Homo sapiens: one gene and its partner. The protein of the gene in region 1 interacts with the protein of each later gene in a biochemical or structural test. Each region holds a gene or a part of one and is shown on either strand. Other genes may lie near its edges.

Region 1 (3,647 bases):
ATGAGGGTCTGAGGAGCCAGTTTGAGAAGAGAGAGAGACAGAGAGCACACATGCACCTGGGGACCTGGGCCACAACTGCTGCTAGGGCCCACTGCCCGCGCCAGGGTCCTGGCGGAGGCCTCACCTGCAGCTTGGTGACCTTGTCGGCCAGCTCTGTGCGCACGCGCTCTCCCTCGTTGAACTTGACCTGCAGCTCCTGCAGCTGCGCCTCCACTTTCTTGCGCTTGTGCTCCGAGTCCCCTTTGCCCTGCAGCAGCACCTTCACCTCGTTGGCCAGCTCCCCCCGCTCGTTCTCCAGAGTCTGCTTTGCCTTCTCGAGGTTTGCTTTCACCTAGCAGGGAAGAAAGCAAAGACGTGAGTGGGGGCCTCCTGACACAAGGCTGGCTGGTCTATCATCACTGGACCCTAGATCCAGACATCGCTGCTTCTGCAGCCCTGACGACGGTGTGCCTGCGTCCTGGACTCAGACGGCTCGGGCCTCATCTGTCCTGTCCTCTTCTCTCTTAGCTGGTGGGTGACACTTGGTTCCTGTCTTCACTGCTTAGGACATCTCACAGCTTCCCCATCTCTAAAATAATACCTGCCCAGCCTTCTGCCCTGGGTAGAGGCCAGGTTCTAGGGCATGGCATTGGTGTTGCAGATGTTAGCAATATTTGTAACGCAATAAGGGGAACTATAATTGTTTGCAGTTAGACTTCCAATAAAGCCTGTCTGAAGTCTGATGTTCAAAGTAACGATGTAATGTTTTCACCCTCAAATAATCACGAGACAGACATACCATAATCCTCCCTTATGAACAGGGAAACTGAGGCACGAGTCACAAAGCCCCTTAGAAGGGGAGCCTGGCCTCAGAACCAGGCAGTTGGGTAGAACCCTGCAACTGCTCTGCAGGACTGGTTTGGATTCTGTGGGCCCAGCACGGGGAACCCTGCCCTCCCCCTGCGGTCTCAGGGAGGCTCCGCACCCGCTTCGTCTGCTCCAGCTGCTCCGCCAGCTCCTCCACGGCCTGTGAGTGCTTCTGCCTCATCTCCTGGATCTGGGCCTCGTGGGTCTTGGCCTCCTCCTCCAGGGTCTTCTTCAGGATGTTCACCTCCTGCTCACGTTTTGACCTGGACAGAGAAATCCCCTCAGAGTGGAGGCCGGGGATGCTGGAGCGAGGCTGTCCCTGGGGCTCTTCCCTGACCAAAGAGAGGCCTGGCCAGGGCACAGGCACTCCAGGCAGCTTTTCTACCCACCGGCCCCTCCTAGCCATCTATCCCATAGCCCAGGCTCAAATACGCCCTGTGAGAGCTTCTGTAGCCTTTCAGCTTTAAAGCCCAGCCTTGCCTCACCCCCAACTTTGAGCCAGGTCCTTCAACAGACTTTCTACTCTGTAGAGAGAAACCGCTGAGGAACCAGCAGCTTCCATGCCTGCTGGTGCCTAAGAGGGCCACGGTGTGTGTGTGTGTGTGTGTGCAGAGGCCCGGGGTCCATGTCTCCAAGCCAAGGCCCCCCTGGCTGCCCTCCCCATCCCGAGGGACTTGGTCCCAGGGCACACCTGAGCTCCTGCTGGGCAGCTGTGGAATCCAGCGTGTCCTCCAACTCTGTTTTCAGAGCCTCTAGCTCTTCCCCAAGGTCCCGTTTCTGCTTCTCAGCTTTATTCCTGGAAGCACGCTCAGACTCCAGGTCTTCCTGGAGTTCAGAGATCTGAGATTCCAGCTCCCGGATCTTCTTGAGGGCCATGTTCTTCTGGGCAGCTTCCTCTTCCACTCTGCCAAAGCGACCAGCAACATCAGTATAAGGAGAGTTTCACCTCCAAGGAGCAGAGTTTGCAGGACAGGCCTGAGAGAGCTGCAGCAGCCAAAGCTGCCTCCTGTGGTCACAATCATGGCACTTAGGATGGCTCTCAGCAGAAACAACATCTGAGACAACCAGATTGAAGGGCAACACCCCTCTGAGAAGCAGAAAACCTCATAGAGGAATCGTTTCAATTTCCAAAGTAAGATTCACTGCTTCAAATATTTTTAAAAGTCAAATGATGTGTTAAATGGGAAGAAAAGGAAATAAAACGCTACACCACAGGACAACTGCAACTCAGTAAAAATACGAATGTGCTACGGACTTTAGATGGTTATGACAGGTCAACGTAGGTTCACCAATTAGAACAGACACAGCACTGTGGTAGGGGATGTTGACTGCAGGGGAGGCGGTGCGTGAGTGGGGCAGTGGATAGATGGAGAATCTTCTGCTGACTCTTCTGTGAATCTAAAACTACTCTAAAAAATAAAGTCTCTTTCTTTTTTTTTTAAACAGAGTCTCGCTCTGTCACCTAGGCTGGAGTGCAATGGCACGATCTTGGCTGACTGCAACCTCTGCCTCCTGGGTTCAAGTGATTCTCCTGCCTCAGCCTCCTGAGTAGGTGAGATTACAGTCGTGTGCCACCACACTGGCGAATTTTTTATATTTTTGGTAGGGATGGGGGTTTCACCATGTTGGCCAGGCTGGTCTCGAACTCCTGACCTCAAGTGATCCACCCGGCTTGGCCTCCCAAAGTGCTGGGATCACAGACGTGAGCCAACGTGCCTGGTCAAGTCTTTTTTTTTTTTTTTTTTTTTTTTAAGTGTGCCTATAGCAAGAAATTAGGAAAGGACTATTGTAGGTGGGTGATAGAGCTGTGGATGACTTTTTTTCAAATTATAAACAAACAAAAGACAAATGAGGCCCCTCACCATGCCCTGAGTGCACAAGAACTGTTTTGCTATGAAATAAATGGCTCTTTTAAGACAACAGTGGAAAGAATGCTCACAGCTCACTAGTGCCGAGAACTAGGGCCAGCAGCAAGCAGGAAGGGCTGGCCCAGGCCACCTGGCCTCAGGCGGGCAGGCGGGGTCCTCACCTGGCCAGGGCGGCCTGGAGCTCCTCCTCTTTCTTGGCCAGCTGCATCTTGAGCTCCGCGATCTGGGCCTGGAGCTCGGCGATCTGGTCGCTGAGGTCTGTGGAGTCTCCCTCCAGCTTCCGGCGGGTCTTCTCCAGCTCCTGTCGCTGCTTCTCCTCCCTGCGGAGGCGCTCTGCAATGCAGGGGGAGCCCACATAGCCCTCAGTGCCATGGGTTCTGTCTCCGTGTCAATTACTTATACAAAATACTGAGCACTCGTTATGAAACGTGTGTCAGGCTTAAAGCATCACAAACACACAGACACTCGCACCCAACTCCTGGATGCAGGAAGAGGACATCACTGCAAACTGCTAGCCCCTGGCATGTCTCTCTCCAACTCACCCCTTGTCCTTCCCTGCCAGGAATTAAGTACTCTCCTAAAGCTGGTGTTTGTAATTCCCTTGGTTCCCTTGAAGGCTGTACCATGTCTGTATCTCTAAAAAACATGTTCAATTGTGTGTGAATCTGAACTTATATAATGGAACTGCCTTGTGTGAATTCCACAGTTGGAATCGCACGGTCAGGGCTCTATGTCTAGCTTTATAACTCTGTGATGTCACTTGGGAAAGCTACTTTCTATACCTCATCTGAATAATAAGCAAAAGGAGACAGCCTACTTCATTAGGATGCTGTGAGGCGCCAATGAGTTACTATCTTAAAAAGCACCTAGAACAGTGCCTGCCTCGTGATGGTTATTCCCTGCCGTGCCTTTGCCACCCCATCACGTGATCTT
Region 2 (3,747 bases), on another chromosome or scaffold:
GACCAGCTGCCTGGGTCTCCTCCTCCTTGTTGAGGTGACAACAAGGAACTCAGTTCAGCTCCTCCCTGGGTATCCAAATTATCCTTCCAAGTCCCAGACTCACAGCTGTCCTCCCTTCTGATTCAGCCCTGATGCTTTTCAGGGGGTCCCAGAAGTGGGATCCGGACTTGAGAGAATGTCACAGTTGAAAATGATAAGGATGCAAACGGAATGGAACTTTCAGAGAACCCCAATTTTCTACTCTAAGTTCTCCAAACCAACTCTCAAATCCAAGATAGCTGCCTTTCCTTTCTTCACCTCCTCTTCTTAGTTTTCCCCAACTTGGCTGCAAAGTCAGCCTCCCCTCTTCTCTTCCTTAGCACCTCAGACCAATAAAACATGCAACCTTTTCTTATTCTTTTTAAAAAATTTATTTTTGACCAGGCGCAGTGGCTCACGCCTGTAATGCCAGCACTTTGGGAGGCCAAGGCGGGTGGATCACGAGGTCAGGAGTTCAAGACCAGCCTGGCCAACATGGTGAAACCCCATCTCTACTAAAAATACAAAAAATTAGCTGGGTGTGGTGGCACACACCTGTAGTCTCAGCTACTCAGGAGGCTGAAGCAGAAGAATCACTTGAACTTGGGAGGCGGAGGTTGCAGTGAGCCGAGATTGTGCCACTATACTCCAGTCTGGGTGACAGAGTGAGACTGCCTCAAAAAGAAAAAAAATTATTTTGTTTGTTTTTTAGATTTTGTAGAGATGGTGTTTCCCTAAGTTGCTCAGGCTGGTCTCGAACTCCTGGCCTCAAGTGATCCTCTCGCCCGGGCCTCCCAAAGTCCTGGGATTACGGGTGTAAGCCAACATGCCTGGCCCCTTTACTTCTTCTTTTCTGTTTTGGTCACAAAACATTTCTCTGTTGATCACTGTAGTGTGTGTGTGGAGGGAAGTGGGGGAGGTACACTCTTAAGAAATGAAATAGTTAACATCTTGGTCCTAAGATTTGTTGTAGAGATGGAGTCTTCTCATTCTGTTCCCCAGGCTGGTCTTGAACTCCTGGCCTCAAGCAATCCTCTTTCCTCGGCTTCCCAAAGTGCTGAGATTGATTACAAGTGTGAGGTACTGCGCCCTGCTACAATCCTTTAATAGGATGTTTTTGGGGGGGGTGGCAGGGGGCAGGATCTAGCTCACTGTAACCTATACTGTTCCAGTGTAACCTGCACCAAGCCATCCTCCCACCTCAGTCTCTTGAGTAGCTAGGAACACAAGCACACATCACCACACCTGGCTCTAACACGATTTTGCTTTTTGCTTTTGTCATTTTGGCTGCTGTTCTTTTTATCTTTCATTCATTCAAGGTCTGAAGATGGAGATAATAGGAATCTTCTCATCTCAATGTGCTCTTTGGCCCCTCCTCTTAAACTGATGCCCCTCTCAGGCCCTGAGGGATTTGGCCTCAGGTTGCCCTGGAAGGGGTGTGAGTGATCAGACAGGTGACTGAGAGCTGGGACGCCTGAGGCCTGCCTAGGCTGAGTCACCTAGTAATGTTGTTGTCATTGTTCCTGTTGAAGTCCCAGCTCAGTGTCACAGACCTTTGTGGAAGCAACAACAGCTCCCATCCTTCCAACCTTTCTGGAGAAGCCGTGGCCTGATGGTGAGCCGAATGGGCTGGGGGGGGAGAAGAAGGCGGCTGGGGCGGTGGGGAGATCTGGGGCCCGGATCGGTGCCCCTCCTCCCCATGCCACTGCCACCTCCTCCTCCTCCTTCATGCCGGGGACCTGGGGGAGGGAGGATCTCCATCTTCTCTCTGTCCCCTGCCCCTCATACAAGAAGCTCCCCCTCCTCATTTTCCCCTCCCACCGCAGGGCCCCCTTGCTCAGTGCTACAGGGGACAGGGGCTTCTCAGTCTTGCCACAGTGCTCTCCCTATCCCAGCCACCCCCCCAACACAGGCTCAACCTGCAATGACACCTGCCTCTGCATCTCCCTCCTGGGGATCCCACTCCACCCCACCCCTGGCCCCGGCAACCCCCACTCCCTCACAGCAGTGCCCCCAGGACTCTCCTGGGCTGCGGGTAGGCCCTTTGATCCCTGAACAGGATTATGAGCGGCTGGAGGACTGTGACCCTGAGGGGTCCCAAGACTCACCCATCCACGGGGAGGAGCAGCAACCCCTGCTTCATGTCCCTGAAGGGCTCCGAGGTATGTGTGTGGGTGTGGGTGGGAGAGGGTTAGTGGTGCCTGGGAGCTCCAGTACTTATCCCAGGCTGGGCCTCTGGCAGCGGGTTGAGAACGTGGAGAATTGATCACATGCCAGGGGCTGACACTCTCCCCTCTGTGCCCAGGCTCCTGGCATCACATCCAGAACCTGGACAGTTTCTTCACCAAGATATCCTTTGCGCTAGGCCTGCAGAGGTGGCATGGGAAGGTCCTCTTGGAGCTGGCACTGTTCTTGGCAGGGAGACTCCGTGAGGGCGTCATGGGTGGGAGACTTGTTGGGGCTGAGGGGAGGTGTCCTCAGGAGAGGCCCCCCGTGCCTCAGGCTTGTTCCTTGACACGCAGCCACATCTACAGCTACCACCAGCGGAATGGCTTTGCCTGCATCTTGCTGGAGGATGTCTTCCAGCTGGGGTGAGACGCTTAGCCCGGGCCCGGAACTCGGTCCCCTGGGCCCATGGCTTCCTTCTGTCATTTTGCTTCCTTAATTGTGCCAGCTGCTTCCATCCCATGCTTTCCCGAGCAGCCCAAGGGCTCAGCAGGGGCAGGGTCAGGGAGGATAACCATGGGCTGCTCTGGGGGCTGGGGCAGGAGCCCACCTGGCTGTCCCTGATCACTGCAGCATCCCGGCACCCCCCCTTCCTCCCGGCAGACAATTTATTTTCATTGTCACCTTCACAACCTTCCTCCTTCGATGCGTGGATTACAATGTTCTCTTTGCCAACCAACCAAGTAACCATACCAGACCTGGGCCGTTCCACAGCAAAGTGACCCTGTCAGATGCCATCCTACCCTCAGCCCAGTGTGCTGAGAGGTTAGTGACAACCTGGTGGGGCCCTGGGGGTGAAGCATGGGCAGTGGGTAGAGGAGTAGACGGGAGCCCCACTTTGTCCCGTCATCTAGATCAGCAGTTCTCAAAGCTTTTGGTCTTAGGACCAAAAATACACTTAATATACTTTAAGTTGTACTTAAGTGTATTAAGTTGTACTTAAAGTGTATTAAGTATATCTTTTTTTTTTTTTAAGACAGAGTTTCACTCTTGTTGCTCAGGCTGGAGTGCAATGGTGAGGTCTTGGCTCACTGCAACCTCCACCTCCCAGGTTCAAGCAATTCTCCTGCCTCAGCCTCCCCAGTAGCTGGGATTATAGGCGTGCACCACCACGTGTATTTTTAGTAGAGACAGGGTTTCACCATGTTGGCCAGGCTGGTCTGGAACTCCTGGCCTCAGGTGATCCACCCACTTTGGCCTCCCAAAGTGCTGGGATTACAGGTGTGAGCCACTGTGCCCGGCCTTTTAAGTGTATCTTAATTACAGTGCATTAAGTGTATCTTAATACACTTAAAATTGGTTGAGAATCCTGAAAAGCTTTTGTTTATGGGAGTCGTATCTATCCACATTTTACCTTATAAAAAATTAAAATTAGGCCGGGCATAGTGGTTCACACCTGTAATCCCAGCACTTTGGGAGGCTGAGGCAGGAGGATTGCTTGAAGCCAGAAGTTTGAGATCAGCCTGAGCAACAAAGTGAGACCACATCTCTATAAAAAATAAA

Evidence for each region. The genes of interacting proteins can lie anywhere in the genome.
Region 2: the proteins of MYH9 (region 1) and ATG9B form a complex in vitro, tested with the Homo sapiens proteins (one study listed by BioGRID).

What each region holds. Positions count from the first base shown.
Region 1 is NC_000022.11:36,293,968-36,297,614, forward strand, and holds part of MYH9 (myosin-9), read right to left. Parts: intron 3,048-3,647; coding exon 2,876-3,047; intron 1,751-2,875; coding exon 1,538-1,750; intron 1,110-1,537; coding exon 965-1,109; intron 332-964; coding exon 125-331; intron 1-124. UniProt on the Homo sapiens protein: Cellular myosin that appears to play a role in cytokinesis, cell shape, and specialized functions such as secretion and capping. Required for cortical actin clearance prior to oocyte exocytosis. Promotes cell motility in conjunction with S100A4.
Region 2 is NC_000007.14:151,022,307-151,026,053, reverse strand, and holds the start of ATG9B (autophagy-related protein 9B), read left to right. Parts: upstream 1-1,559; 5' UTR 1,560-1,630; coding exon 1,631-2,180; intron 2,181-2,323; coding exon 2,324-2,367; intron 2,368-2,544; coding exon 2,545-2,609; intron 2,610-2,847; coding exon 2,848-3,009; intron 3,010-3,747. UniProt on the Homo sapiens protein: Phospholipid scramblase involved in autophagy by mediating autophagosomal membrane expansion. Cycles between the preautophagosomal structure/phagophore assembly site (PAS) and the cytoplasmic vesicle pool and supplies membrane for the growing autophagosome.